Regions from separate parts of the Homo sapiens genome. Here region 2 is reported to be linked to region 1. Evidence: microRNA targets listed by miRTarBase, many of them from high-throughput screens and not tested one by one. Region 1 holds a microRNA gene; the other region holds the end of a gene's coding sequence.

Region 1 (3,150 bases):
TGGGATGGAAAATTCAGCTCTACTTTTTGGTGGGTTAAAGTCAAGGAAACATTTCAGAAGAGTGTGTGGATGGGAGATACTGTACAATCATCTCTGGAGAATAAAATCTGTCAAAATGAAAGTGCTTCTGAGAAACATGTGCCCTTTTGCTTTCTTTCTTGGAATGTACCTATATAATAACTGAAGATCTACTATTCCCAAAATCATTGAGAGGGCTTAAAGGAATATTTTCTGATACTCAAGATTTTCAGGGAAATGTAAATCAGCCATACTGTTTTCAAAATGTTGCTATACAAATATAAAGATATATTGTACACTCAGGAAATTGTTGCTGAAACAATTATAACTTTATAGATATTTTCAAAAAATCTAAGTGTGTTTATGTGAAAATAATTGCATAGGCAAGTCAAACACGATACTAAGGAAACTGATGTTATGTTGCTTCAATTTCAATGCAAAGTAAAAGCCTAATAGAGTAAACAGGTATCCATACCATATCATCAAATGGAATAAAAGAGTTAGTATAACTCTTTTATTTTATTCATCAAATGAATAAAAGAGTGAGTATCCATGTTGGTTTAATGGACCTGACTGTTTTGGATGTATCTTGGTGCAGAAGACAATACCTGCAATGTCCTGAGAAATTTAAGTCTCTCTCGTTCTCTGTCTCTGTCTCTTTCTCTCTCAGGCATGCACACACATACACACAATCTGTTATGTCCAGTTTAACAGAAAAAAATAATTCTAAATAACAGGAATACCACATGTAGCTGACAAAGTGGAAATTCAGTATATTAAAGATTACCCTGGGTATTTTTCTCTCTCTTCCATAGAAATACAGGGCTATTTTTATTAATGCATGGTAATATACTAGACTGTGGTTGTATAAGTCCACATACTCAAGGCTATTCCAAGATACCAATTATAGCAGCACTGGGTTAGCTTGGAAGGCTGGAATGAACAGATTGTCTGGTCTGGGGAAGACTGATTTTACCTGTATAAGACAAAAACTAAGTCAAAATGGAGAGCAACACAGTATCATACAAAATAATCATTTCAAGAACATAACATGTAAGAATGGACTAGACTCCTAAACAATTTTTAAAACATCACAAAATATAAACTAATGTTTGAAGAGATAACAATAATTTAGACACTAATTTTGGTATTTCAAATGTAGAAAAAAATCAGTCTTTTATCCATCCAGCACTCATTCTTTTGCAAATTCCACCTCACCACTGTTTGGAGAAATCACCAACCCTACTCACTCCCAGAATATAGTTTAAATTTAAGGTTCCATCTTATAGCCTTACCTCTACTGCCACAGAATTGATCTGCTGTGGAGCTTTAATACAATTGATTTTACTCAGGTATTTTATAAAATAATTCTCAGAAACTGATAATTGCAATAAACAGTTACCAAGTACTATATTATGTACCAAGTACTTTTGCCTATGTTAGCTTATCTAATTTTTTCAGTAGCCCTAAGAAGAGATATTATTAGTCACACTTTACAGATGAGAAAATGGAGGCACAGAGAACTTACATACCTGATTGGGGTTACACAGGCAGTAAGTACAGTATTTAAACCAAGATTAAAACTCAGGCAGTCTAACAGCAGAGCATGTGTCCTCAGCTATTATGTCATTTTATCTTTAGGGCATCAAATTTGGAAAGAGTAAACATGGCTACAGGAAAACTCCAGGGAAAATGTTAATAATGATTACTTTTAATTTGTCTAAAGGGGTTAAGCTTATTACAAAGTTTCAAAAACAATGCTTATTGTGATTAAATCCTTCTTATAATTACAGATATACTCATAAACTGTAAAGTTCAAAGTTTCAAATACTTAAAGAATATAAATTACACTCTTTTTGAAGCTATTATGATATACATACCTGTCTTAGTCCATTTTGTGCTGCTATATAGGAATACTTGAAACTGGGTAATTCATAAAGAAAAAAGGTTTAATGGGTTAATGACTCTGACAACTAGAAAGTTCAATATTGGGCATTGGGTGAGAAATGCCCAGTCATAAACCTTCTAGTTTTCAGAGTCGCAAACCAATTAAACATTGAGCTTCTTCCACTCATGGCAGAAGGCAAACGGAAGCTAGAGTGTGCAGAGACATGGCAAGGGAGGAAGCCAGAGAGAGAGGATGTACCAGGCTCTTTTTAACAACCAGCTCTCAGGGAGCTAATAGAATGAGAACTAATTTACCCCTGAGGAAAGGCACTCATCTATGCATGAGGAATATGCCCCCCATGACCCAAACACCCACCATCAGGCTCCACTTGCAACCTTGAGATCAAATTTCAACATGAGGTTTGGAGGGGACAAACACCGAAGCCCTAGCAATACCACATGAGCTTTTTTATTGGGAACTTATCCATGAAAAAGCACCTATTCATTTTACTGGAATTAAGGTAGAAATTAGTTTCTCAGCTGATTAGAAAAACTGTGTCTCACTGCTATAAAAGTAGCATAGAACTCTTCACTGTTCATTAATGGCGGATCTGTGTCTGATTCCAGCCCTCACTAGGCTCTAAGATTTGGAGAACAGACATACTCACTTGTCCTCAAGGTTAGCCAGAATAGAAACAAACTCTGGTTTCTAAAGGTGTCGCTTTGAGAGTGGCCAGAAGCCTACACTTGTTTTGTCAATAAATCAAAAGCTTTGGTCTCCTGGGCTGTTTGCCCTATCCCTTTCTTGCTACTTTATTCTTCCTAAACAATAAATCAATAGGCCAATCCTAGCCAATCCTAAAATGTTTCAGCAGGACAAAGACCAGCGCATTTTTTGGAGCTAAACTTTGTGTTTCTTGCACGCTCTCTGGATACAAATAATACAGCTCTCACTTTAATGTGTGGGGTTAAGAGAGAATACTTTGTAAGTATATATGACACATCAGAGTCTATAAACTAAAGTTGCTTCTTTCCTTGAAATTGATCCTAAAACTCAAGTTGTGAAGTCATAGTGTAAAATAGTCTCTAGGTCGTGAATAACCCAACTTTGGTGCCTCCTGTGATCTTTTTATTCTGGAACGCTGCTTATATTATGTGTCTCACCTCCCACTTCCACCAGGGTCAAACTTTTTATTCTCAGGTGAGCTCCAAAATCCAGACTCAGTAAAGCAATGAGAGGATTGA
Region 2 (3,000 bases), not on the chromosome of region 1:
ATGTTGGCCTCACATGCTCTAAAGTGCTTTACAATTATCTTATTTAATTCCTACAACCTTGTGAAGTCAGTAATTTTACCATCGCCGTTGGATGGAGGAAGAAACTGAGGGACAGGTTGCTTAAGTAACTTGTCCACAGTGGCAGAGCCCAGTCCCTGGCTCCAGATACCAAAGATACCTCTTTGGTAGACTGCCTTTCTGCACCCAAAACAACAAATATGAATTTAATTTTCAGTTGTGGTAAGCAGGGGAGACAAACGGGGTAAGTGTGATAAGAAAGCAAAGAAGAAGGAACGCCTGCCTTGGGATCCTAACACACAGGTCAAGAAAGGGCTGCCTTTCTACTCAGAGATCAGAAACAATATGACTTCACTTCTGTTTTTTCTTTTTTCTTTTTTCAGTCACCAGTTCCAGTGACCCCCAAGAGCATCCAACGCACACATCGTGAGACGTTTTTCAAGACACCCGGCAGCCTTGGAGACCCTGTCCTGAAGAGAAGAGAAAGGAACCAGTCACGAAACACCAGCTCGGCCCAGAGGAGACTAGAAATCCCCAGCGGCGGCGCTGACTAACCTGCCGCTTTGCCAGGTGGGGGTGGGATCAAACGCCCTGAGAGTCCCGGATGTCCGAGGCGGGATGCAAACCATCCCGTCCTGAGCACGGGTCCTTCCTCTCTCTTTCATCCACACTTCTGTTAACTTCCCACCACCATCAATCATCTGATTTCCTGAAAGTAATTAATTGTGCATTTAATACCAGTTAGAGTTCCGACTCTGCATGGTGTCACAGTGAAAGCGCCGACTGACTTATGGTTTTGATTCAAGAATCGTCTTATTCTGGAAGTAGATCTGAATAGGCTACCGGAGCCTTGTTTTTCTAAAGGGGGGCGCTGTCTAGCACTTAACTAGGGTAAGCATTCTTAACATGTATTTCCACTTGCCCTGAGTAAATCTGTGGTGAGAGAAGCTTCCTTTCTGCAGTTTAAAAAAGCTACTGCTTCCTTAGGCTTCATCAGGAAGCCACCTTCAGTTGTGAATCCTATGGTGTTATTTATTTTGTTCCTGAAATGGGATTTAGTGCAAAAAGTTTACAACTACAGTCTTTAACACATTTTTTTCAGGGTATGACGACTTGAATGTTTATACTTTTATTCTATAATTTGCCCTGCACTTATTTTACAACCTAGTAATAATGTGGATAAATGTATCTACATGACACATGTCAAGACCAAAATAACTGTGAATGACACACCTTGCTGTAAATGAACTGTGCTAACCCTGACTGTGGGCTTGAGAACAAAGATGAACTCTAGAACTCTAGCAGCCTAACTGCTGCTTCTCAAATAACTGTGTGAACAGTGAGATATTACTGTTTGTTTCTAAAAATCCTACTGTGCCCAGTTTCCTTCACTACATGCCCTGCATTTTTTATTTAAATATTTAGCTGTAGCGCCATCAGATATGGATGCCTTCTAACAATTGCTGTTTGTAAAATAAATCAGGATGGTAGAAAGTGATTATATGGAAAATTGGAACCTGGATGAGACCTTTTCGTTGAATTCTGAAGAGTAATGATGTGAAAATTGATACAGGGCAAGAGATGATTCTTTTGTTTTTCTTCTACTTCATGTCCAGAAGAGTAAGAGGGAAAATGGACATATGTTTCATATCCAAGGGTATTCAAACTGTAGTTAGTTGGTACCTCTGAAAAATGAGAATGGTGAGCGCACGGGTTGGTTGTTCTAGCATGAATACAATTCTGGAAACTGTTATGCAATTTCCCTTTTTTAACCCACATTACTTTAGGGGTGCATTAAGTCGCCAAACTATACTAGTTCTTTGTATTCCTAGACTTGCTGATATTTACCTCTCTCTTGTCTCTTCAGAGTAAATGGTTCCCTTCTTTCCTTCCTACTTTCCTTCATTCTCTCTTCCTTCCCTCCTTCCTACTTCTTTTCTTCCTTCCTCTTCCTCTCTTAAAACTATCTTAGATGTAGAATCCTGGTGTAGGGTTTTATTTTATTTTTATTTTTTGACCCAATAAAATGTTATATGAAAGAATGAAAATATTAATTTAAGAGACTCTGGGAGTCTGAATAAAGTAGCTTTATATTAACTACAGGATAATATTAGCCTTATTACCCCCACAAGATTTTTTAAAACTTGAGGTAGGTAGCTACATTAAATAAATTTGCTACTTATATAAAAATTTTTATCAACACTAAACTTTTAAAGTTTACAAGTTTTTTTTTTCTTTTTTACAGTCTTCTATAGAGTTAGGTTAAAAATGTGGTTCTAACCATCAACAATTGCATGGTTAAATGACCCTGAACTAAAACTGATGGGTTCCCTATCAAAACAAATAAAAATATACCTTTTTCAGGTTTCAATCTGTGCAGGGTATATGCATGTTAATTCTACCATGCTTAAGAACTTCCACAAAATATTTCATGGAGAGGTCTGCATTTAGACGGAAACAGAAATTGCTTTTCCCCTCACTGTTCCTGAATGCTCTATACTTGTTTTAACATTTTTGCTATCTTTTTTTATTATTCTGATCATGATATGACCATTTAACCTCAGAATTCATAATTCCTGAGGGGTGTTAAGAAGCAGTCCCATTGGTGAGGATATTATGACTTGGTGACCATTCTTAGGAGTAGAAAACCAAGGACAATTGCTTCTGTATTCAGTATCCACTTCTTAATGTGGCTTTATATGTAAAAATAATAATGCAGTGGTTGTTTCTGTCAGGAAAATAAATCTTACAGAACAACTGGTGGAATTGAAGCTGCTGCGCTAGACTTGGATATTTTGGGTAGTGAAGAAGCAATGGCAATCTTGAGTCTATTATTGTATAATTTAGTAAAAGAAAAAAATAATCGTTGGTGGTCCTACTAAGAGAATGCAGCTTTTTTGAGTTGTCACAGAGGCTGTGTGTGCCCTACACTGACCAGGGTTTGTAAAACCCTTTCATTCTGGTACAAGAGTCGGGGGTATA

Evidence for each region. Region 1 holds the annotated microRNA hsa-miR-4431 (GCGACUCUGAAAACUAGAAGGU, at 2,039-2,060, opposite strand). A microRNA usually pairs through its seed, bases 2 to 8, with sites in the 3' UTR of a target mRNA and lowers its output. Matches are read on the target gene's strand: a 7mer-m8 pairs with bases 2 to 8, a 7mer-A1 pairs with bases 2 to 7 and ends in A, and an 8mer does both.
Region 2: miRTarBase lists E2F7 as a target of hsa-miR-4431. Seed matches in the 3' UTR shown: 7mer-m8 at 2,986-2,992.

Annotation. Positions count from the first base shown.
Region 1 is chr2:52,700,550-52,703,699 of GRCh38, forward strand. MIR4431 (microRNA 4431) reads right to left here and starts at 2,066; the gene lies at 1,973-2,066.
Region 2 is chr12:77,021,587-77,024,586 of GRCh38, reverse strand. E2F7 (E2F transcription factor 7) reads left to right here. Exons shown (of 13, transcript NM_203394.3): 13 at 402-3,000. The coding sequence ends at 572. Among named protein-coding and RNA genes, the nearest start is that of E2F7, 42 kb to the left of the region's middle.